Linked DNA regions of Homo sapiens: all the other regions are reported to be linked to region 4. Evidence: microRNA targets listed by miRTarBase, many of them from high-throughput screens and not tested one by one. Region 4 holds a microRNA gene; each other region holds the end of a gene's coding sequence.
What was found. Region 4 holds the annotated microRNA hsa-miR-6821-3p (UGACCUCUCCGCUCCGCACAG, at 1,055-1,075, opposite strand). A microRNA usually pairs through its seed, bases 2 to 8, with sites in the 3' UTR of a target mRNA and lowers its output. Matches are read on the target gene's strand: a 7mer-m8 pairs with bases 2 to 8, a 7mer-A1 pairs with bases 2 to 7 and ends in A, and an 8mer does both.

Region 1 (4,104 bases), not on the chromosome of region 4:
TGCTCCATGAGCCTTTCTTTTTCTTCTTGGCACAGTAGGCTAGTCTGAAAACGATCTTCTCATGGTGATGGTAGAAAAGAAGAGAGTGAATCCAATCATAGAAGTACTTTTCAAGCCTTGGGTTAGTCGTGCCCATGATATTCCATTGCAAAACAAATCATGTTATCAAGCTGAGGAGTTCTCCTGGTGCAGGTGGGTAAGGAAACGAACATATGAATAACAATGTTAACTAACACATAGTGCTTTGGAAATGAGTGACAAACATGCGTACATATGGCTTTTTCTCAGTGAAAATGAAACTTTAGGGATTAGGATCTAGTATTGCTATTTCTCCTATGAGACAGAGCTAAATTCACTAACAGAGACAGGAGTTGCTGGTTGAGTCAGACTCTATGAATTTACTCGCACACAATTTAAGGCTCAAATGAAACTGTCATTTTAGTCAAATAAGGGTGGTCAAGCTCACAGTACTAACTAAAAGGCAACTGGAGCCCCTCTAATTTGCAGGTTTGTGAAAAGTTCCTCTGAACTACTCACTGAAGATCCCTCCATTGATAAGCAACCGCTCACTCTATTCAAGTGGTAATGAATGTGCAAATGCTGACCAGAACTTAATTACGATACTAAAAGAGTGTACTTCAAAGAAGAGCTAATATAAAAACACAGAGAGACACCTGTCATCTGATAGATTGATAAATTACATGAATTTATGTTATACTGTAAAACTGTCTCTCCCTTTAGTGAAACAATCCAAATACCTCCAACTCTGCCACTCTCTACTCCTAACTCTGCCACTCCCTACCCCCACTTTCTGCTTGTATTCATATATTATAGTAAAACAGTAAAATAAAACCACAATGCTTTGTATACAAATTACTGATGATTAAGTCTTGTTAAATACAAATAGCCATACACATGAAGCAAAGCAACAGCCATACATATGAAGCTAGCATTTGTTTCTTGAGAACTAATAAGGAACTAAAGATAAATAATTAAGGCAGGTAAACAGTTTATTTTTCTAGTTGTTGAGCTGTATAGTTATCTGTCGCTATGTAACAAATTATACTCAAAATTAATGGTGTTAAACAATAAGCACTTATTATCTAATAGTGTTAGAAGTTCAGAAATTTAGTAAAAGGCTTAGCTGGGTAGTTCTGGCTCTCTTGAGGTCTTGGTCAAAAGATCAACTGAAGTTGCAATTATCTGAAGACTTGACTGGAGGCTGGAGGATCTGCTTCCAAGATGGCTCCCTTACATGGCTGGCAAGTTGGTGCTTGTTAGCAAAATACCTTAGTTCCTTGACAGGTAGATTTCTTTCTTTCTTTCTTTCTTTCTTTTTTTTTTTTTTTTGAGGCGGAGTCTCGGTCTTTCACCCAGATTGGAGTGTGCAGTGGCACAATCTCGGCTCACTGCAAGCTCTGCCTCCCGGGTTCCCACCCTTCTCCTGCCTCAGCCTCCTGAGTAGCTGGGACTACAGGTGCCCGACACCACACCCGGCTAATTTTTTGTATTTTTAGTAGAGACGGGGTTTCACTGTGTTAGCCAGGATGGTCTCGATCTCCTGACCTCGTGATCCACCCACCTCGGCCTCCCAAAGTGCTGGGATTACAGGCGTGAGCCACTGCGCCCGGCCACGACAGGTAGATTTCTCAATAGGGCTGCCTTGGTGTCTTCATGGCATGGGAATGGGCTTTTCCCAGTGTCAGTATGGTCAAAGAGAGATCAAAGAAGAAGCCACAGTGTATTTTGTGACCTAGCCTTGGTCACTTCCAAGCTTTTTTGGCTATACCAATGGTGAGAGTGGTACTCATTCTCAACATTGTGCAAGTGCATGACCCTGAGTGTGAATACCTCCTTAAATTTTTTCCCTAGGTGCATTGATTGCCTCCCCTTAATCCTGGCCTCAGGTTACACAAATCATCTGTATTCAGCATTGGAGGGGACCACATAAAGATGTGAATAGTAGGAGGCAAGAACACTGGGGCTCATCTTGGAGGCTGGCCACCACAAGAGTTAAGCACCTACCTAAGATTCTGAGCCATGAGAAAGAACTTCCACAGGCTCGATGGTTCTCAACTTTGGCTGAACATGTGAATCATTTGAGAGTGTTGATGCCTGTGTCTCACTCCTCAGACATTCTGATTTAATTGAACTGAAGTGTGACAGCCATGGTGTTTAAGAAAAAGACATAATCTCCAAATAACTCTGCACAAGGCATTCTCATGTGCAGTCAAGGATAAGCATACTGCAAGTGAACTAAAGTTTCCTTTTGGGACTAAAGTCCACACAGAATTTGCCTATCACTCTATCTGTCAACAACATCTGTTTTTCCCTCCTGGAGCAGGGAGTGTGGGAAGGTTTCAAGCGACAAGGAGGATTAGTAATTTATTCATTCACAAACTATTGCTGAATACAGAGCACGTCTGGCTGACTAGGTTTCTTCTCTGACACCTATACATTCTGCTTCAACTGCTTTAAAAAAGATTGGTAGGAGCAGGGTTAATTAATCAGTGCTGGTCTGATTTGAGGCTCTTTATCTTTTTCAAAACAGATCAAAACAGGCAGATTAAATGAACAGGTAAATCCCCAGATGAAAAAGAGAATAACTGGAATTAGAAAGTAGGGTTGGGCTTAGGCTGCCTGTTTACTTACAAAACAGTTTGGTTCCAGTTTGATGGACATACACACGAAGGCACTCAAATGAAACCACTCTTGGCTAATATAATTTTAGAGGCCAGTGGAGTTTTGTATCTTCTAGGCTACTGGGTTTTTGGCTAATTATCTCTTTGATCCCTCTTCATCCTGGTCCATGTGGCAGGAGTCTGGGCTGAACATGGTAGGAAGACAGTGAAGGAGGATTGAAAATGTGGTTCCTGTGCAAAGTATTCTGTTTCCTTCCATGAAAATAAGCAACAGAATTTCAATATGAAGACTAACCATACTTCTCCATTACTTGGCAGCCTTGTTAGCACTTTTACATTTTCTTTTTCCTGTAATTATCTTAGGGAATGCAGCAAAGCCCCAGGATTTTGGCAAAGAGTTTACAATGTTGATAGATGTTCAAATAAGAGGATCAGGCATGGGCATACAGTTGAAACCATTGTTGTCCCTCCATCAGAGAATTTAAATGAAAATACTGTATTTTTTTTTAAAGATGGCAGACTAATATGTACTTCTTACATAAGCAAGAAAACCACTACGAATTGCATTGAGTGTGAACATGACATATCCTCTCACTCTTGGTTAAGCTTCAGGCGTTTGGAGATGGAAGAGGGTGAGTTGCTGGGAAAACAGGTCACTCACTTCTGACTTCCATTTCAGCTGCAGCAAAGGCATGGCTGAAGAGCGACTATATTAATAAAGCACAATGTCTACCTTCTCAATAGGATTCCAGCAGAGTTCTGCCATGGGGCAAAGTCTCACGAGACTAGAGGGTCTCCATCTCATGATAAGGCAGATCACTTTCGTTGGGCTCTTGAATGCAAGTGTACTTGATGGGAGGTGGTGGTGGCTTGAAAGGTGGAGGTCTTTCCATTCTAGGAACAAAATATTGGTCTTTCAATGCTAAGAATTGAGGGAGTCTTATGCACACACACACACAGACATGTGTTGTTTCTTTAAAGGAGAACACAGATTGATGAGAAAGAGACATACTCTCCCAGTTCTTTCAGCATTTTTGCTGGCATAACCCTGTGCCTGTTAGTCACATTTGAACCTCATGATCTATACGGTATTTTGTAGTTTGCAAAGAATTTTTATCATAACATTATTTACTTTGTATGTAGAAATTGCCTCACCATCTACAGATAAAACTGAGCATTTTTATCATAACATTATTTACTTTGTGTGCAGGAAATGTATCATAACATTATTTACTTTGTGTGCAGGAAATGCATCACCATTCTACAGATAAAACTGAGGCTCAGAGGTTTTAAACAACTTGCTCAAGAGAACCAGACCAACAATTCAAGTCTTTTCACCAGAACTGATACTCTCCATGACAACTGCCTCCTAATAGAAGAAATGTTTCTTTTATGTGGATTAAAATATTCCTCCAGAGACTAAATCTTAAAATCCTAGGATTTAAGACTGAAGCTTTTCATA
Region 2 (4,104 bases), not on the chromosome of region 4:
GCACCAGCATCCTGCATCATTAGCAGCACGTGGGAACCCTAGTGTATGGGTGCAAGGCCACTTGCCTCAGTTTTCCAGGCGTTCCCAGGGGCCTCCATTTCTCATCTTGAAAAAAGCAGCAAGGCTTTGGTACCAGAGGGTCTTGGTGTAAGTGCAAATCTGCTTCAGATATATATTAGCTGTGGATTTGGGGCTGGTTACAAGGCTTATCTGAGCCTCACTCTTTTCTTGGGAGATAAGGGAAAATAGTCCTTGCCTGATGGGCTGCAGTGAGGATTCAATTAGGCAATGTCCCTTAGAGCTCTGGGGAGCTGTGAAACCGGTGATGCCAGGCTGATGTCTATGAAATGCACTGGGAGTGAGGAAAGGGTCACAGATCTCCGCCTGGGTGTTGGAATATCCAGGGACCGTGGGAGGCTCCCGGGGGCCCCATGCTAGTGTTCTCCACCAAAGACAGAGGAGACAGGTGATGTGCATGGGAGAGCTTTGCCTTCCTCTCTCACGGAACCACAGGCTGTCAGAGCCTTGCTCCGCAGCTTCAGTTTGACAACCTCAGAGAACCATAATGATATAGGAGTTAAAAAGAAATTACTCGGGCAGATAGTGAGGGTATGGAAGTCCTTGGTAAGATTTTCCTTTTAATGAAAAGCAGCCCCTAAATCCTTTTCTAACAAAAAGCAGCTGTAAAATCGTGCTGCAGACATAGACAAGCAAGTTGGAAGCTTGCATGGGTGAATGCCAGCAGTTGTGTCCATTGGAATGTACTACCTAAGACTAAGCATGTTCAAAATGGCGGCTCCGTCTTCTCTTTTTGCCAGCTATGAGTGCAGTAAGGAGAAGACAAGATGGCCAAGTGGAAAGTCCATTTGCATAATCAGATTTGGGTGGGGTGGCCAGCCTTTCTCGTGCACTACGTAAACGTCACACCTGGTCAAACCAATCTGTGAGCCCTATGTAAATCAGACACCACCTCCTCAAGCCTGCCTATAAAATACGCTGTGGTCCACCACTTTTCCCTTTTCAGATGCCTCTGTCTCACGAGAGAGAGAGCTGCTCTCCTCTCTCCTTTCTTCTGCCTATTAAACATTCTGTTCCTTAACCCACCCACATATGTCCGTGTCCTTAATCCTCTTGGCGCAAGATGACAAACCCCGGTTATTTACCCCAGACAGCAATGCCGCTTCAATAAGATAGCCACACATCACTTCCAAAAACAGGTTTAATTGATCAAATCTATTAACTAAAGTGAGCAAAACATCTCTGTTCGTTTGTCTTCGAGCTTGTGATATCCATGAATCTGACTTCAGAAGCAAGCTGCTCCAGAAACTGCATAAGCAGTCACTACTGCTGGTGCTGATTTCCTCAGCAACAAAGATTTGTTGAACACCTACTATACACCAGGCCCCGTGCTGCTGTGCATTCCAGCCACTGGCCCAGCCTCCAAGTGGTGGAGTGACCCTGGGTTCGGTCTTTGGCTCTGGTTTCTCTCTATCTCTCCAAGGGATGTATTATAAAACCATAGGTCTATAAACACCATTTATATCTCCAAACAATGTGCATCTCCAGGCCCAAGCTCCACATCTCTGCATCCAACTGCCTATTCAATTTGGAAGTCTCACTGAGATTTCAAACTGATGAGCTCCAAATGAAACTCTTGGCTCCCCCCCCCCTAATCTTTGCCCAGGCCCCCCCATTTTTGTTGCCTGCTTCACCATCCAACCAATGACAGGCTAAAAAATCAGAGTATTCCCCTTGAGTTCTCCCTTTCCCTCACATTCTATCAATTCCATCCTTCCCATCAATAAATCATCTTTGTTTTACCTTCCCAAGGTATATTTACAAGTCATTTCTCACAATCCCTCCCTAATGCCACTCACCTCCAAGGTCCCATCCCCATGTCACACTTCAGCAGCTGCCCAACTGGTCTCCATTTTCACTCATGCTCCTCAGAGTCTATTCCCTGCCCAGCAGCCAGGGTAATCTTTGCACACATTCATCAGGTCACGTCAGCCTCCAGTTGCCAACCTCCAGGGGCTTGGAGAACAGAATAAACTCCTAGGCCCTATGTGATCTAACCCTGCAATTTCTCTGGCCTCAACTGACAGGCCCCAGCCGGGTACCCCTCATCTCAGCATTAAAGGCAGTGCCTAGTGCAGAGGAGGCTCCATCAATAGTCGGCTTACGCCACTCTCCCTTCAAGCGTGTCAGCCTCCTTGCACTAACATCTCTTCTGTGTCCCTTCCCCCATTCACACAGGTGGCCCTTTCTTGTCGCTTACCTTTTGATCCAATTTGTCACTCCTCAGAAAGGTCTCCTTAGGCCCCTCCCCATCTGATCTAAATTCCCATCACTACCATAGCCCCCGTCCCATTTTCTTCACAGTGCTTATTCGCTCTGTGATGCTATACTATTTATTGACTTGTAGCCAGGCGTGGCGGCTCACGCCTGTAATCCCAGCTACTTGGGAGGCTGAGGCGGGAGGATTGCTTGAGCCAAGGCATTTGAGGCTTCAGGGAGCCGTGATTGTGCCGTTGCACTCCAGCCTGGGCATTGGAGCAAGACCCTCATCTCAAATATATAGGTATCTGTATATAGATATAGTTTATTGACTTTTATTTAGTTTTTCTGCCCCTGACTCGAAGGTAAGTTCCCTGAGAGAGGGCCATGGCTGTCTGGTTCACCACTGTATTCCTAGCACAAAGGACACTGTCTGCCATGGCTGGTGCTTAAGAGGCATCTCTGCTGGATGCGTCAGGAGTAAACCACTCCTGAACTCACTCTCAAACATTTCAGAGCCATCCTACTTTCTCTCTCATTTCATGATGCCGATTCTCTTAAAAGGGTCCATAGCATTTTTATAAATGAAAAAAAAAAAAAAGTAAGTCATCTTTAACTGTTCCTTAGAAATTCTTCAATTGCTCTTGACATCAACGAATGATCCTAAACCCTTGCGAGTCCAAGGTAGGGCACAGGGTGGCTGTGACCCTTCAGAGGAGAAATCTGCGTCCTGAATCGGTTCTAAGACTCACTTCAGAAACCACTATGGTGTGGCTTTATATGTAGGAGATGTGATTGCTGAACAGTCATAAATAAATATTTATTAAATTTGATCATATTACAAACACACTAAAAAAGTTCACATTTAAAAGGAACCCATAACAAATCTTTTTTTTTTTTTTTTTAAGATGGAGTTTCACTCTTGTTGCCCTGGTTGGAGTGCAATGGCACGATCTCGGCTCACTGCAACCTCTGCCTCCCAGGTTCAAGAGATTCTCCTGGTTCAGCCTCCCAAGTAGCTAGGATTACAGGTGCCCACCACCACTCCCAGCTAATTTTTTTTTTTATTTTTAGTAGAGACGGGGGTCTCACCATGTTGGTCAGGTTGGTCTCGAACTCCTGACCTCAGGTGATCCACCCACCTCAGCCTCCCAAACTGCTGGGATTACAGGCATGAACCACTGCACCTGGCCAACAAATCCTTTTATAAAGGGAAAATATTATGAAACTTGGTGATCACCCCTTAATTTACCGACGCTGTGGATGTCTATTTGCATAGGTTCATTTTCTTAAAGCAGGGTGCACTGATGGAGGGTACTGGAAATGAACTCTGTTTAAAAGCATGCCACAGCTCGCCAGGTGTGAGAAACTCGGCTATAAAGAAAAATTAGCCAGAAATAATCGACAAGTCATTTCTTTTGACAGATGTGTCTGTTAAAATGGCTCCCTTTTCTGGGAACCAGAAGCAGCAAAAAATTTTCTTCCACTCATTCCTGCACAGTGTCATGTTGTAGAGGATGGGGTTTAGGGCTGAATTAGCAAATGTGAAGGCCACCACCCAGAAGAAGAGGGACGGCCAGATGACCAGGTCTTGCTTGAAGTTCTGGATCAGGATGAGGAGGATGGTGATGATGATGGGGCTCCACATGATGAAGAAGGAGACCATGAGGAGGAAGAGGGTGCGGAAGAGCCGGAAGTCCTGCTGGGACACGCGGATCTGGTGGCTCTCCGAGTAGGCCAGGCTTACCGTGAGCCTCTTCCTTGATGCCTTTGTGATCTGTGGAAAACCAAAACAGGACTGGAGCCACAGGTGACCGAGGGTTGTTG
Region 3 (4,097 bases), not on the chromosome of region 4:
CAGCCTCCGAAAGGCAGCCATTCCCTTTTCTCAGTGTCCTGCTAAACCTGGAGCCGGGTCGCCCCAGCATCTTCCAGTGGCAGATGGGGAGGAGCAGCACCCACCGCGAAGGTGTCCACGGCCAAGGTCGGGCGCCCGGGCCGCCCAGGCACTGCGGCGGGGACGAGCGGCCAGGAGGCAGCTCAGCGTGGAACTGTAGCCCCGCCGCCCCCGCCCCCCCCTGCCTGGGCTTTTTAGATAAAATCCAGGACTTCATGGACATTTCCCGCATGGGACCGTTTCAGAGTCATTTGCTCATCCCACGAGTTTTTACTGCGCATCTACAATGGGGTGCACAGTGTCCCCTCGGCACTGGGGAGAGGCAGGGAACAGGTGGAGAAGTCTCCCTTTTTCCTGGAGCTTAGACTTCAGAGGAGAGAAGAAGAAGATGAGTAAGCAACTAAGCAAACAAGATAATTTTAGACAGTGATGTGTTCTGTGAAGAAAAGAAATGGGAAGAATGTGACGGAGAGGACTGTGAGGAACCTACTTTCCACTGGGATGCAGGGAGGCCCCTCTGCCGAGGGGATGTAGGTTTAACAAAATTAATGCTAAAATTCTATATTTTCAATGTCAACAATATTTTGTGGGAAACATTGATACCATTTAAAAAGATCTGATTATTTAGAATCTGTGGCAGTTTTTTTTGTCGTTGTTGTTACTGTGGTTGTTTGTTGTTTTTATTGTTTTTAGATTAGGCAACAGTTTAAAAAATCTGTTCAACAGGGGTTGTGGAAGAATGTGCCGTTTGGGATAGAGCCTAGGGAGGAAAACAAATGTTGTTCTCCTGAAGAGCAAGGAAGGGCTAATGCAGACAGAAGATGATGCTAATAAAATATCATTAAGGCTTATTTCGTTACAGCTATTATGAAACCAGATTTTTTTTCTTTTAACTTTTTTGAGATGGAGTCTCACTCTGTTGCCCAGCGGGGAGTACAGTAGCGCTGTCTCAGCTCACTACAGCCTCTGTCTCCCAGGTTCAAGTGATTTTCCTGCCTCAGCCTCCCGAGTAGCTGGGACTACAGGTGCACACCACCACACCCGGCTAATTTTTGTATTTTTAGTACAGACAGGGTTTCACCATGTTGGCCAGGCTGGTCTCGAACTCCTGACCTCAAGTGATCCACCTGCCTCAGCCTCCCACAGTACTGGGATTATAGATGTGAGCCAACGTGCCTGGCCGAAACTGGTTTATTGAATGAACTAAGTCCAGAAAGCGAGGGCTTCATTTTTCTCTAACCATTGCCTTACAACAAAGTTCTGTTGGATCTCCTCCCATCATCACTCCTGAATCTTGGGCAGATACCATAAATTTTAGTGACAAATCTCACTTTAGTCATTGCACCTCTATTTAAGGGATTAAAATGTCCAGGCCAGTCCAATTTAACAGCAATCTCACACCTCATTCAAAAATCTGCTTGGCCTTCCTTGCAGTGAAATGACGAAGGCATATAGTCAGTTTCTTTACTCTTCCTCCATTGTCTCTGTCTTCTCTATATTCTAGATGTCCCTATGCCATTGCAAGGGAAGAGGGTATTACACAAAGAGGAGCAGATCTTCCTGTAGTTAACTATTGAATAAGGCAGACAGGCCAGCATGATCCTGCCAGCTGCTATGGCAGAGTCCAAATGCTGGCTTTTTCATAGGGCACATCTGTGAGTTATTGGAGGGCCTTGAGTGTACCCCACATTGCACAGTTCCATGATGCAGGGCCACATTATCTGGCTGACCTCTTGCAGCAACCTCCACCCCAAACCCCTCTTCTGCCTAACCCCGTGTCCTCTTACTGCTATAGTTTCTTTGCACAACAGGCTACCCTGTTGGCTGATATCCCGTCATGACAATGCAAGCCCAGCTACTCTTCCATAGTCAAAGCCATGTGAAGAAATTCACATCCTTTTACCATGTCAATAATGGGAGGGCAGGTTGCTATCAGTGCTTCTCTTCTCTCATCCTGCCATTTTGGGTGCTCAAGCCAACCTTTCACCTCCTGAATTCCCCAGGGGGGAAGAACTCATCTATTCATTCAACAAATATTCATCAAGCACTTGTATTTGCCAAACACTATTTACCAGTCTCTGTGTTCCCAGTGCCCACCCTCGGACTCCAGCAAACACTCATCAAGCTCTTCCAAGAATTCTCAAGCCACACCACATCTGCTGCACTGAACCTGTGTGCTCCTGTTACTCTGCAAGCTTTCAGTCTTGGAGTGGGATGCCAGGCTACCTTCTACCATGCTGAGTCCCTCACACTTGTCTGCAAGAAATTCAAAGCAATCTCCCTATGGCCTAGAACCTCCGCTTAATGACTCTTTAATCACGCTTTTGACTCTAGTCTTCTAGAGATGGATAATACGGACTGGGAGTCATTGGTCTCTTTCTGCTCTTTTGATAAGTCCAGACTGGCTGTGTCTAGTATCATGTTGGTGCAGTTACTGTCTTTCGTCAGCTTTGAGCCTTTAGCCAGAATTCTAAGACAACCAGAAAAGTCCCATTCAATATCCAGCTGCAAATAAATTTGGCCGAGTTTTCTTGGAAAGCAGGTGGATCCACGTCTTTCACCTCAACAGCTTATGATTAAGTCCATATATCCCTTTACATACATACACTATCAAGTCATGAGTCCTCATTGGTTAATTACATATTTGTGTAGCAGGATAAAAAATTAAATAAGCTATTACACATATGTGAAACAAAAGACTTTTTTATATGCCGTAGCTGATCTAATTTTTTCCCCAAGCCCCAGACTTGAAGAGAATGATGACACTGACCCAAAGACCAATATGATTCACAGGGCACTCCGAGGACTGGTGCATATGATGCTGAAGTTGACTGTTCCCTTGCTGCCATGAAGCCATATAAACTCTTGCTCACAACAGAATCCATTTGGGAAAGCAGAGTGGAGAGGAGCTGAAAAACTGAGCATTTACTCAAAAGAGACTGTTTCAATTTGAAACATAATGATTAAACCAGAAGAGACTGGGCTGTCTCTAACTGGCAGGCTAACCTCACCGCCTAGCTCAGTTCCCCAGATGAAACATTGTTTTTGTTAAGTCTTTCCTGAAGGCATGAGGATAATGGAGGCACCTCCAGACAGTTACTTACGACTGTACTATTCACCATCATCCAAGTAAATAATGGTTTCTTAAGTTGAATTTCCTAAATTTTTTTAAGATTTCACATCATTGTTTTCAGTGACTAGTGTTAATTTCATATTAAAAGCGGCTCTAATGTTAGCCCAAAAGAGCCCACGTTTGCTTTTCTCCTTGGGCCACTGCAAATAAGTCCGCTGCGTCATGAGAGCCTTCAGCTTGTGGTACTTGTTGGGAATGCTGTTCTGTGGAATGGGTTCCAGTAAGATGAGGATTAAGTTATTAGATCCTTCATGAAAGAGATTGTGATGGGCAAAATAGAGTTCGTAATGGCACCACTCACTCTGGACAAAGTTGGGAGACAAAACAAAGATGGACTTGTAACTCTTCTCAATGCAGTTGATGATATTTTCCACAATGCTCTTGCCAGGGACAAAGTTTCTCTCATGAAGACAAATCTGTATATCTTCTTTTTCTAGGTAAGGTACCAATTCACTTTTCACCCAGGCAGAATCATGTTCACTATATGAAATAAAAGCATGAAACTGGAGGTTTCTTTGGAGTTCTTCTAAGGGTATGTTCCTGGCCCTGCGCCGAGTCTGGGTCCACTGGCACACCATCCTGAGATACCAGGGCAGATCCAAGTAGATGCAGAGGGAGGTCACAGTCACAGCCAACACCAGCATGGTGGCACCGATGGTGACGATCAGCAGAGTTATGTTGCAGGATAATTCAGACATGTGAAAGTCCTTTAGTGGGCTTCCTCTATAACTTTCTGGGTAGTCACACTTATAAGAATCAGGCCAGCCCTCTAACACTTCACTTGATACTTGGTCTATATTTTTGACAAATTCTCTTAGCTCACAGGTACATTGGAATGGATTGTCCCCTGCTTTTATTGACCTCATCTTCTGGCAGCTCTGGAAGAAATCAGCCGATGGGTGGGAAACTGAATTGTGATCAATGA
Region 4 (4,104 bases):
CCCCCATCTGCGATGCCTGCACACACCGCATTCACACAAACACAGGTACTGAATAAATTAAACGCTCAGGCTCTGGCCCCACCCCAGCTTTCAGAGCCCACAAGCAGACTGTACAAAGTCAATAATTTAAAACCCAAACCCTGGGCACAGTGCCTGGAAGTGTCAGGGTCACCCACTCCCCTTAAGTTAGCCACTATACATGTTCATCTTCTGACAGGCGGGGCCGGGACAGACGCCAGGCACAGGAATCAGGGCCTGGGGTCCCTGGACCACAGCCACCCCCTCCCCTGCCTCCCCACTGTCCCCTGGGGCTTGGGAGAGGCAGACTGCTCAGAGGAAATAACCTCAACAAATAAATTAAACAATAAATAGCCCCGGTGGGCCGAGGGCACCTCCAGGGGGTCACACCATAAATAACAGAGTTGGCGGCGGGTACGGCTCGCGTGGGCGGGCGGGCGCGGAGGCCAGGACTTGCATTGTGTGTGCAGGACGTGCCCAGACGCACACCGCAGGACTGAGGGCGGGAGGTGGGCTTGGGACCCTGCGCCGGCGGAAAGAGCTCCGGGTGGGCAGGCAGATGGGAAGGCCGCCTCCGGACACAGCAGCACAGAGGGGCGTCTGGGGTTCAAGTATCCACCCAGGGCAGGCGGGACCTCGACCGGAGCGTCTTTGGACAGACAGAGCTTGAGAAAACCAAGTCCCGCGGGACCAGCGTTCAAAAGGCACTCAAAGCGAAGGTCACCAGGGGTCAGAGGTCACTGCTTCCGCAGGAGGAGACGGCCCACGCAGGAGAAAGTCAGGGTCTGGGGGCGTCCCAGGTCTGGCCAAGGCAGGTGGTCCCCTAGCTCCCAGTCAGGTGCAGCTCCTCACAAGCTCTCGCTGCTGGACGTGGTGCTGGCCACGTCATCAGGGTCGAGGGTGCACAGCCGCAGGTCACAGCTCTCCGGGACGCCCCCGTCAGCCCCCAGCATCCAGGGATGGGCCGCAATCTGATCCAGCGACGGCCGCTCTGAGGGCCGCAGGGACAGGCACCACCGGATCAGCTGCTGGCACTCTGTGCGGAGCGGAGAGGTCAGGGAGGGCCCAAGCAGGGCGAGGCCCCCACCCCCGCCTCGAGCCACCACGCACCTGGAGAGACCCTCCTCCGGAAGAGCAGGCGGCCTCGGAGGATCTCCTCGTCCTGCTCGAAGGGGATGTCCCCACACACCATATCGTAGAGAAGCACGCCCAGCGACCACACGGTGGCCGAGCGCCCGTGGTAGCGGTGGTAGCGGATCCACTCCGGGGGGCTGTACACTCGGGTGCCTAAGGGGACACAGGGCTTAGCACGCCCACCACAGAGGCAGAGCCGCTCAACAGACGGCGAGGTCCCTGCTGGTTAACTCCCTGGCCTCAGTAACAGGAAGCAGAGCCAGGCCTCAAAATCCTGCTCGTCATCACCCTGGAAAAACCCCGGCAGGCGATGGGGGGGCTGGGGGAGGGGCCGGCCGTCCCCCTCCGCCGGCCGCGGGGGAGGAGCAGGTCACATGAGTAAGAGCTCGGCTTTCACAACAAACAGATGCGCTGTGAGGCTACCTGGGTGGGGGGGGGACAGCGCGGGTCCCTTACCGCCCGGCGCGCCTGCCTGCGGGAACGGGGGGAGGGGAGAGAGGGAGGGAGGAGGGAGGGGCGGGCGGGGAGCCCCGGCTTCCCCAAGCTCCGCAATGCGGGGATTTCTGCCGCCGCGCCCCCGCGCTCCGCACGCACGCAGCTCCCGCCCCCACGCAGGGGAGGCCCCGCCACTCCAACCGCGCCGCGGGGGCCTCCAGGCTCCCGGCGCAGACCCAGCCCGGCTGCGCCCTGCGTCACGCACGGAGACTCCTCCGCTACCGCCCCCAGCCGGGGGTCTCTCGGGCCGGAAGGATGTCACGCGCCTCCCACACCGGGGCAAGAGGCCCCGTACCCCCCAACGCGATGGAGGAAGCAATATTGAGCGCGCCCCTAGCCCCCACCCAGCACGATCCCGCTCTTGATCCCTCGCTCAGCCCTCCCCAGGGTAGCGCGTGGGCCTCTGCTCCCCACGAGAGCAGACCCAGGGCGCGCGGCCGCCCAACAGTCATCAGCCCCTCCATGTGCCGCCCCTGCAGGCGTTAACCCGCCGGCAAGGCCCCCGGAACGTTCCCTGCCCCGCGCCCGCGCTCACCGTCGAAGTCGGTGTAGACCGTGTCCTTGAGCAGCGCACCCGAACCGAAGTCGATGAGCTTGAGCTCTCCGGAGCGCAGGTCCACAAGCAGATTTTCGTCCTTAATGTCGCGGTGCACGACCCCGCAGCTGTGGCAGTGGCGCACGGCGGCCAGCACCTGCGCGAAGAAGCGGCGCGCCAGCGGCTCGTCCAGGGCGCCGCGCTCCGTGATAAAGTCGAAGAGGTCCTGCGCCGGCTCGGGCCGCTCCAGCACCAGCAGGAAGCCGTCGGGCCGCTCGAACCAGTCCAGCAGGCGGATGACGCCGCGCGCGCCGCCCGCCGCGCCCACCTTGCGCAGCAGCACCACCTCCAGGGGCACGGTCGCGCCGCCCTGGGGGACACGGCGGTCAGCAAAAGCCCCGCGCCCGCCCCCCGCCGCCGCCGCCGCCCGTGCCCCAACTTACCAGGCTGCCCCACTCGGTCACCCGCTCCTTCACCACGTGCTTCACAGCCACCTGCGGAGACGCGGGGGTCAGGCCGGGCCAAGCGAGGCGCAAGGCGCGCGAGAAACCCGGGCCCGCCCGGCGGTCCGACTCACCGGGAGCCCGTCGGCGATGCGGCTACCCGCGTAGACCGTGCCGAAGCCGCCGCTACCCAGCACGGCGCCCACCTGGTACGCCTTCTCGAAGCTCTCCTTGTCCGCCTTGGCTGCAGGGAGGCGCGGGCGGGGTTGGTGCGGCCCGGGGCGCCCCCGGTCCCCGCCCTGGCCCCGGCCCCGGCCCCGCCGGCCCCGCGCGTACCTGGCTGCAGGATCTTCACCGGGAGGTGGTCCACGCCGCCGGGCCCGCAGAGGTGCGCCAGGGAGCCGAACTTGGAGAGCAGCATCGCGGGCGACGGCCTCCCCGGAGCCCCGAGCCCCAGGCGCCGAAGCCGCGGCCGATCCGGGCGAGCGGCGCGCCGGGGACACCGGCCGTCCGAGCCCGAGGCGGTCCGCGCGGCGCAGTGGGCCCGGAAGGCCCGCGGGGACCGCGTAGACGCGCAGCAGGCGGAGCGCCTCACCCGCCCCGGCCGCCTCGCCCGGGGGTTTTGGGCCGCGGCGCCGCGTATCCCTCCGCGGGGGCGGGGCGAATCGGGACCCCGCCCCCTTCCGCCCGGGGCCCGCGAGGCGGCGGCGGCCGGGCGCTAGCTGGGGAGACGGCGGGGCAGCTTGGCGCCTGTCTTCGGGCGGGCGAGGGCCGGGTGCGGCGGGCGCGGGGCCGCTCCGGGACTCGTTTTCGTAGCGCAGCCGCGGAGGCGCACGGCGTGTCGCGTCGGTCCGCTCTCCGCGCTCACGCTCTCACTCCGCGCAGGCGCAGTGCCCGCGCGGGTGGCGGCCGTGGCGCCTCGGGCAGAACGAGGAGGGACTGCACGAGCCAATGGAAGCCGGAGTTTTTAAAGAAATCCGGCGCCCCAGCCAATGGCGGGGCGAGCCGTTTCCTGGCTCCGCCCCCAGCAGTGCCTAGGAAGGTCACCCGCCGGCCCCGAGCAGGGTTCCTGGGGGTGTGGGAGTGCGGGAGGCGACCTGCGCTTGTCCCGCGGCCTCGAGGTGACACACGCCGCCAGTCTGCGTCCCCGGCTGTCTGCGCATCCCGTCGCGCACGTGGCCGGGCGCGCGGGGAGGTAGCGCCGGCTCCTCTGGAAGCCCTCGCAGCGGCAGCGCCCCCAGCCTCGCAGCCCCGGCGGGGGCCGAGAGCGCACCTGGCTGGAGATGCTTCCTCCTCACCCTGGGCTCTGACCTCACGCCCGCAGCCCGAGGGCCCTCCCTGGTACCTCTGCCCTGCTGGCCGGTGCCTGGAGTGGCCCCGCCCGACTCCTGCCGTCTGACACGGTCCTGGCTGCCCTCCGGGCTCTCCAGCAGCTGCTGTCCACCTCCACCAGGGAGCCCACCTTGATTGCTGCGACAG
Region 5 (4,000 bases), not on the chromosome of region 4:
ACCCAGGCCAGAGTGCAATGGCACGAACTTGGCTCACTGCAACCTCCGCCTCCCAGGTTCAAGCGATTCTCCCACCTTGGCCTCCCAAGTAGCGGGGATTACAGGCACCAGCCACCATGCCCGGGTAATTTCTGTATTTTTTTTAGTAGAGATGGGGTTTCACCATGTTGGTCAGGCTGGTCTGGAACTCCTGACCTCAGGTGATCCACTCGTCTCGGCCTCCCAAAGTGCTGGGATTACAGGTGTGAGCCACCGCGCCCGGCCTAAACTCATTTCTTGAATGTACTCCTATATCAGGGTATGGAGTCCTTGAAACTCATTTAATGAAATGTTTACTCTGTGCAGAGAATACTGGGTAGGTATCTAGGTTCAAAATATATTTCATATTTTAAGGATGTTATCATCTAAGACACAGGAAACTATATATGTGTGGTCTATAAAACCATATATAGCGTTACTAAGAATAAAACTTTGAGGGAAACAAAGACATGAAGGCCAGTTTCTACCAACCTTCCACTTTGACCAGGGAAACCAGGAGACTGCACATAGAGGCCTATTTGACTGTGTTCATCAACAGAAATGAACAGATTGCAAGATAAGCAAAACAGGCTCTAGAAAGAAGCAGCCAATGAACAGCTAATTTATAATTAAAAGGAAGAAAAGCAGCTGCACCTTGGGAGCTCGGAATTTAGTCACTACCAAGACCCAGGGCCACTGCTCAGAGACAAAAGGTAAACACGCTCATTGTAGTCAAGATGTATCGGAATCACAGACTTGGAATCTTAGAGCTGAAAGGGGCTTGAGAGCCCACCCAGACCTGCTCACGCTGTAGGAAGGCGGAAACTGAGGCTCAGGGAAATGAAATGGCTTGCCAAAGATTAAGGCTAGAAACGTCCAGCCAAGGGCTCTTTCACAACTCCTATCCCTGAAATATCCCATAACGGCCAGATAGGTCATGGGGTATTAACCAACAAAGAGATCCAGCATAACTGCTTCTTGAAATACAAATCACTCAGACTCCCAGGTTCCATCAGGAAATAGCAAAACATGAGAGGGAAAGGACTGGTAATGCCATGTTACCAGTCAGAGGTTCCATCAGAAAAGAACCACTAGGAATGATGTAGAAAGAGAGGATTGTGAAAGCGGTTTGAGCAATTAGAGGGGCTGGTGAAAGTCTCGGTTCGGCTGTTTCTTCTTCACCAGACCACAGGCCAGGCGGTTGGAAAGGATGGTGAGGGAGAGCAAGTACGACTGAGACCTGCAAGCCACAAGCTGGGACCTGCACCTGTCTCTCATCAGAGCCCGTGCTGGTCTCTCATCCCCAAACCTTCATCCTTGTGGCTGCAGACCAAGAAGCTGGTTCTCATACCCGGCCCAGGGTCTGGAAAAGCCAAAGGCAGAGTTCTGCGGGAGTGGGAGGAGCCGTGGGCCCAGCGGCTGCCCACACCACAAGTGCAGGAGATCCATGGTAACGTGCACGTGATGGAACAGGGCCTGACCTACATCCACTTCCAGTGAATACACATGGCTGTTGCTCTACTTCCACTTCCAAACCTCATGCAAATCTCTCTCGTGGCCAACCCTCACCAGAGAAACAAACAAGGAAGGGAATTCTGGGAACACAGTTCAGTTTAGCCAAGTTCACGACACTGCAGAAACCACAACATGCCATCAAAATATTAAACTAACTAGAATTCTTTCCGGGAGTATTGAATTTGCCTATTGTTCTTCTGCCATACTTCTCCGCTTCCACCCAGTAATAAGTAGCCTATCACCTACTCAGGACCCCAGTCTAAGTGAACCCCATGTTTTGTCTAACTTCTACTTTAGAAGTAGACACAGTTGGCTGGAGAGCTGGCTGACTGCGTGGTTTGTTTGTGCTGCACTAGGTCTGCCATCCTGCCCTGTGCCAGCCACTAACAGCTGCAGCAGTGGAAAGGCTCGGCCCTCGCAGGCTTGAACTGCCACCCACTCTGTGCTTTCATGTGTCACCTGTATTAAGTGCAGTGAGGATAATGGCACCTAAGCTATTTTTGTAGCTCTGTAAACAGCCCTTCATTCCTCGAAGCTACAAACATATCCCTGTGTTCAGAACCAGGTTCTGTATACTCCAGAAGAAAGACAATGATGGTGATGTCTTAAATATACCACTTTTTGTCAATCTAGGTGAAAGAAATATGAATATTCATTGTATTATTCTTTTGAATTTGAAAATGTAAAATTAATTAATTTTTTTTAATTAGCTGGATTTGGTGGCACACACCTGTAATCCCAGCTACTCAGGAGTCTGAGGCGTGAGGATCCCCGGAGCCCGGGAGTTTGAGGAGTCAGTGTGCTATGATTGCGCCACTGCACTCCAGCCTGAGCAACAGCACAAGACCCTGTCTCAAACCAAGATTAGAATCAGATCAAGTTTAGCCAAGATACATTAAATTAAGCGCATCAATTTTAATCTTGTGAATCTACTGAAGGCTCTTTCTGGTATCTGAAAACACACCTCCCGACGCTTGCAGGAACTTAGGGAACAGGGTACAGGCCTGCATGCCGTCCTGGCCCCAGCGACTCCCTTCAGCTCTGACTTTTAGTCTCAAGGTGTCTGCCTAGGTCTGCTCCTCACATTCCACTCTTTGCTTCTCCAGTCCTTGCTTCCATTAGAACACCTATGATGTGTAAAGTACGACACTAAGCACTTTTGTTGTTACTCAAATAACTTCCTTTCCTAAACTCCCAGAGAAATTCAGCAGCTTTTTGAGCTTTTTTCTTTTCAGAAATGAAGGCCTGAGGCTATACGGCCATATTTGTATCCCTGGCACAATATTGGACACATCAAATGGGTTCAAGAAATGTCTGTGGAATGAGACATCTCTGCAGTCAAAGAAAGCTAAACTATGTCTGCATCAAGGAAACCGGTTATCAGTGGAGATGAATCTGATGAGGGTGTGGAAAGGAAGGCTTCAGCTTCTGATGACGACTAAGGGACACCTAACCTGACAGTCAACAAAATGCCAGTGTTCCACCTGGGCAGGAAGACGCGCCCCAGATAAGGGCTTGGTGTGACGGAAACAGTCAGGGTAGAAACAGGAACAATACAGAGACCTAGATTCAATTAGTTTTTCAAGTTGACCACACATAAACCAGACAGCCTACTGAAAAGTTCATGAGGGCGTTGAGAACACAGAGCTTCGTAAAATATTTTCCCCTTGTCTCCATATTTTTATTCCGGTACCTGGACTGGACTATATACTCTCAATTAAAAAAAAAAAAAAACTAAATAAAAATAATTCTCAATGCAGAGTTCTTCAAAGAATTCCTAATAATTCACACGTTCCAGCTTCAGTTATCACCGAGAACTGGTTAGGTTCCTTCCACACCGGGAAACTGCATCAAGGAAAAGAGCTGGGCAAAGTCAGATTTTCATGCCAGCCGGACTCCTTCGCACCCACTTTCAGGGAGCCTCCCGCCAGCCTCCAGACCTGGTCAGATGATATGACCTTAGCTCCACACGTCCTCAGGGTGTCGGTGTCTGGGGCTCCCAGCCCCAGGCAGGCCGGGCAGCAGCTACAGCCTGAGCTCGCGGTCGGGCTTCATGCTGAAGGGCTCCAGCCGCTCGCCCTCGGGCAGCATGCTGTTGAGCCTGTCCAGCAGGGGCACAGTCTGGTCGATGCCCATCTGTATGCGGCGGAGGATGGCGGACATCTCGTTCACTTTCTGGATCTGCTCGGCATACTTGGCGTATCTTTTCTGGCGCTCCTGCATGAAGCTGAACAGAGTTTCTACAGACAGATCCATCTGTGGATGGGAAAGAGAAGTACATTATACCTTGTTTAATCAAGTCCTCTCCGCAGGGCCGGGTGTCCAGCCTGTGAGGGACACAGTCCCGCAGATCCAGTGGAAGCTGACAAGTTTTACAGGAAGCACCCAGGGCTAAAAAGCCCTTCAGGGACACAGCTTTATCAACTGTTGTGCCAGAACCACCTTTAGAAGAGAACTGAGAGGGGAC
Region 6 (4,104 bases), not on the chromosome of region 4:
TTCCTGCTGAACTGAGCCAGTGTGTAAAATGAGAACTGATATCAGCTCAGTAGGCACCGGAGGGCGGGTCCAATCGACAGCCCGGAGAAGCAGCGCCTCAGCTGGGAGCTCCGTGGGCACCGTCTGCTGGCGCAGGAGACGCGAAGGCCTGGACTGCAAATACAAGAGAGAGTTCACCGCGCCCAGAACAACAGGAGCTCCTCCGAAAGCCCCGCCCCGCCCCGCTCACAGCCATGAGCTACCACATGATTTCACACGACTTAGGTGATGCATTTGGTTTTAGTTTTTTGTAAGAAGAATTTTTGCAACTTTCAATACATTTGACCTTTCAGACAGATGTCCGATTAGTGCATGTTTCTGTGGACAGACTTAAGGACTCAGTACATGGCTAGCATTCCCAGCAGGAGACAGTGCATCCTTGGGGTCAAGTGGTCTCTCATCCTCCAGGATCGCGCTCCGCACCCAAGCTGACTGTGCAGCAGCGGCCGGCCCGTCAGCAACGGCCTCTGCCCCAGCGGCTCCAACTTAACTGTCCCCATCTCACCTTCTCTTCAGGTGCAGAACTTAGCCACTGTGAACAAAGCGGAAACCAATCACTGTTCACCAATCAGCTAAGCTCTGCACCTTGTTAGAGAGGTCATCGCTGGGCATAAATAAAGGGACGGTGACCGGTGAGCATCTTCCTCAGCTGGTGGCTTCTTTTGTTTCCAAAGAAGAGCTACGAGATGCACCTGTTCTCCAATCTGCAGTGAGCGCGACCACGGTTTCTGGAGGAGCAGCCAAGGTCGTGGTTGCGTGGTAATCCCTGGCAATGTGATTTTAATCTTAAGTCACAAATCAGCATGCCAGGAACCCAAGCAGCCAGAGCACCTGAGAGCAGCGCCACCCCGTGCTGTCTGCACACACTGGGCTTCCGCGGAAGGACGCCGGCGACACTGCCGCCTTCACGCCTGTTATGCTAGCAAACAGGTGGAGTTTCTGTTTGTTGTTCGTTTAGTTGGCATCCTAGAGGTATAATTTCTTGAATCAAAGGGACTCCAGAGATGACCATAAAAATGCCAGTGCAGCTTTGGAACTGAAGAAAAATGCAGGGACCGGCCATGCGACACACACAATTGCTAAAGGCAGCTGTCCTTGCTATTAGTTTACTGCCTCTAACCCTTGGGGACAAGATCCCTTCTCTCCAGGCAGATTCTAGCTGCCCTGGGAAGGCTTTGGGGACTCTCAAGTCAGGAGGTCCCCCTGCTGGAAGGGGCCCTGGGACAATCCCGGCCACTGTTCCTCACGGGGACTGGTTGGGGGGCAGGCTTGCAACCCCTGGATGCATCTGGAGGGGTGGGGACAGGATCGAAGATGCTGGGGAGGGGGAAAAGGGAGACTTGTGACCAAGATGACTCCTTTGCCTGCCTGGGCAAAAATTCCCCATAAAGAGTGGCGAGGGGTGTGCCCTGTGGTGCTGCTCCAAAACCTGCACCAAAGGGAATGATGAAAGGACTAGCTGGCCTTGTAGTTTCACACACTTTAACACGTACGCCACGAAATAACAAAACGAAAGAGAAACACCATTTACACTGATTACTATTATGAGGCCGGCAGTGAGGTAAGTGCACAGTCTGTGTGCCGCCAGCCCGTCCTGGAGGGGAGCCGCGTCAAGTCTGCAGCAGGCGTTTCGCTACGAGACGCTCAGTCCCGTTTCCCTTTCCTGGCACACATGGTTCCTGACTCTTCTGGAAGAATATGATCATGCTTCTGAAAAACTTTTTATTTCTTTTCATTATTAGAGTTCTTTCAGATAAATAAGCTACTTAAACACGTTACACAGAAATGGTTTTCATAAGCACAAAACATTAGAAGAAAACTCAATGTTCAAAACTGAGTGAAGAATATCAACACCAAATATTCAATATCCATGAAAAATTATAGAGAAGCTATAACACGAAAAATGCTTCAGATTTGATAAAGTTTTTTTAAAGATACAAAATTAGACATCCCCTATTAATATCATATAAAACACTGAAGAAAAACGGAGCAGACACAGAAATAATGATGATTGTTAGAGAAAAAAAATCTCACAGCTATCCTAACAAAACCTTGTGTACTACCGCTAGGTTGCTTTAATAGTGTAGAAACCCATACTGAGCAACTAACTGCTAGGAAGTAAATCTAACAGGTTAATTCCAGGCACAATTAACAGAGGAAGTGATTTAAATAATCTAGGACTCCAATAGAAGCCAGGGGAGAAATTCCGCTCCAACACAACAAAGCAAAAAGTAGGACCTGCCCTCAAGACACAGGGTCATGGAGGCCATATGCCACGTGTGCTGTGTGCGCCGCGGGTGCTGTGTGGTGCGTGCACTGTGTGTGCCACATGTGCTCTGTGTGGTGCGTGCGGTGTGTGCTGTGTGTGCCGCAGGTGCTCTGTGTGGTGCACGCGCTGTGTGTGGTGTGTGTGCTGCATGCAGTGTGCGCGCTACGTGTGGTGCATGTGCTGTGTGTGCTCTGTGTTGTGCATGCGCTGTGTGTGGTGTGTGTGCCGCGTGTACTCTGCGTGGTGTGTGTGCTGTGGGTGCTCCAGGTGCTCTGTGTGGTGTGTGTGCTGCGTGTGCCGCGTGTGCTCTGTGTGGTGCGTGCGCTGTTTGGTGTGTATGCTGCATGTGCCGTGTGTGCTCTGCGTGGTGCGTGCGCTGTGTGTGCTGTGTGTGCCGCGTGTGCTCTGTGTGGTGCGTGCGCTGTGTGGTGTGTGCTGTGCGTGCTCTGTGTGGTGCGTCCTCTGGTGTGTGTGTGCTGCATGCAGTGTGTGTGCTACGTGTGGTGCATGTGCTGTGTGTGCTGCGTGTGCCTGGAGAGCCTCCTGCCAGCCGATGACCAGGCGTGGACAGCCCAAGGAACCTCCAATTCACACATGGCTAGAAGAAAACATCTGCTTGCAGAAGCTAGGCTTTGGAGTCACACGGCCGCTTAAACTCCTGTATCAGCCGTGACCCTGAAGACTGGACCAGCGCTTCTGCCAGGCTTCCCATTCCATCTCTAAACCTACTCAAGATGTTCCCCCACAATTTTTGTTTCAACAGATTATAAAACCTGAAGTGGCCAAAATAGTGCCAAGGAGTGCCGCTGTGCCTCCAGGTGGACAGCCTCTGCTTCCCGGTGACTGCCACAGCCAGGCAAGGTGCTCCAGGGACCCGGGGCTCCCATACCAGCCCAGCACCCACTTGGCCAGTTACTCTCCAGGCCCTGGGCCAGGGAGCCGACTATTGATGCTGCGGGTAGTCTTGGCTAACTATTCGGCTTACTGATTTAGTTGGCTCCTAAAAGGAGTATCTGGTTAGAACTAAATGACAGAAAGGAAAGGGAGAGAATCACCTCGTTAAAATAACATTTCGGCCACCACCTGGGCTGAGGACCTATCCATCTGCTCCTTGGTCCGCTCGAAGCACCTACGGGCGAGCTGCTGCTGTCTGGCGTCCTCACTCACCATCAGCTCCCCGTAGAGGTACACACCCATGGCCTGCAGGGCACAGAGGCCAAAGGGCATCAGGCGAAGGTGTGGGTACCCACACACACGCACACATGAGCTCAGTCTGTGCTTGTTCCACACACACTTGCTGGTCTAGAAATTGCAAAGACCCCAGAGAAGACAGAGGCCGTGGGCTGACTGTGCTTTTGGAAGCTGCAGTCTGCAATCCCTGTCTCCTCCTTGTACTCAAAACCCCAAGGAATCCTCAGCTCCCAATTCTCTACACAGACTCTGACGATTTCACTGGTGACAGAACGATGAGCAGGCATTCCCACCATGATGGCCGTGTCAGGAACGCTCTGAACAGACAGAGATGGTTCCCAGAATTACCACGCGGAGAGCCTGTGTGGCATTACAGACACGGGACTCCTGCCCCGCAAAGTGTGTCCCTAGGAGTAGCTGGTCTGAGCTCATCCGGGAAGTCCTTCACCTGCCAGGGAAGCAAAGAGCACAGCAGGCAGCAGCCGCGGCAGAGACACATCACGATGCCCGCAGAGACGCCCACCCCGCCTGCGCCCTTTCCTCCACAGCCCTGCACCGTAGCCCGCACCGGCTCTGCTGCTTGGGAACAATGCCGCAAACACTCA

Region 1: the mRNA of CD96 is a reported target of hsa-miR-6821-3p. Seed matches in the 3' UTR shown: 7mer-A1 at 1,563-1,569.
Region 2: miRTarBase lists FFAR4 as a target of hsa-miR-6821-3p. Seed matches in the 3' UTR shown: 7mer-A1 at 3,398-3,404.
Region 3: the mRNA of TLR6 is a reported target of hsa-miR-6821-3p. Seed matches in the 3' UTR shown: 8mer at 1,766-1,773 and 7mer-A1 at 1,149-1,155.
Region 5: the mRNA of BORCS5 is a reported target of hsa-miR-6821-3p. Seed matches in the 3' UTR shown: 7mer-A1 at 192-198.
Region 6: miRTarBase lists AOPEP as a target of hsa-miR-6821-3p. The part of its 3' UTR that is shown has no 7-base or 8-base seed match.

The regions. Positions count from the first base shown.
Region 1 is chr3:111,649,130-111,653,233 of GRCh38, reverse strand. It overlaps CD96 (CD96 molecule), which reads right to left. Exons shown (of 14, transcript NM_005816.5): 14 at 862-3,536. The coding sequence ends at 3,428. Among named protein-coding and RNA genes, the nearest start is that of PLCXD2, 23 kb to the left of the region's middle.
Region 2 is chr10:93,587,170-93,591,273 of GRCh38, reverse strand. FFAR4 (free fatty acid receptor 4) reads right to left here. Exons shown (of 3, transcript NM_001195755.2): 3 at 1,202-4,054. The coding sequence ends at 3,665. Among named protein-coding and RNA genes, the nearest start is that of RBP4, 12 kb to the left of the region's middle.
Region 3 is chr4:38,823,876-38,827,972 of GRCh38, forward strand. TLR6 (toll like receptor 6) reads right to left here. Exons shown (of 2, transcript NM_006068.5): 2 at 1-4,097. The coding sequence ends at 3,208. Among named protein-coding and RNA genes, the nearest start is that of TLR1, 21 kb to the left of the region's middle. RefSeq lists an enhancer at 1-31.
Region 4 is chr22:49,959,890-49,963,993 of GRCh38, reverse strand. It overlaps MIR6821 (microRNA 6821), which reads right to left and starts at 1,128; the gene lies at 1,055-1,128. It overlaps PIM3 (Pim-3 proto-oncogene, serine/threonine kinase), which reads right to left and starts at 3,222. Exons shown (of 6, transcript NM_001001852.4): 1 at 2,962-3,222; 2 at 2,760-2,869; 3 at 2,626-2,676; 4 at 2,183-2,552; 5 at 1,129-1,305; 6 at 1-1,054. The coding sequence starts at 3,046. The coding sequence ends at 867. RefSeq lists silencers at 1,360-1,879, 2,010-2,059, 2,700-2,749, 2,890-3,039, 3,090-3,729 and 1 more.
Region 5 is chr12:12,465,335-12,469,334 of GRCh38, reverse strand. It overlaps BORCS5 (BLOC-1 related complex subunit 5), which reads right to left. Exons shown (of 4, transcript NM_058169.6): 4 at 1-3,789. The coding sequence ends at 3,559. Among named protein-coding and RNA genes, the nearest start is that of DUSP16, 96 kb to the left of the region's middle.
Region 6 is chr9:95,081,979-95,086,082 of GRCh38, reverse strand. It overlaps AOPEP (aminopeptidase O (putative)), which reads right to left. Exons shown (of 17, transcript NM_001193329.3): 16 at 3,364-3,508. The coding sequence ends at 3,368. It overlaps MIR23B (microRNA 23b), which reads right to left and starts at 875; the gene lies at 779-875. It overlaps MIR27B (microRNA 27b), which reads right to left and starts at 638; the gene lies at 542-638. MIR3074 (microRNA 3074) reads left to right here; the gene lies at 1-69. It also overlaps MIR24-1.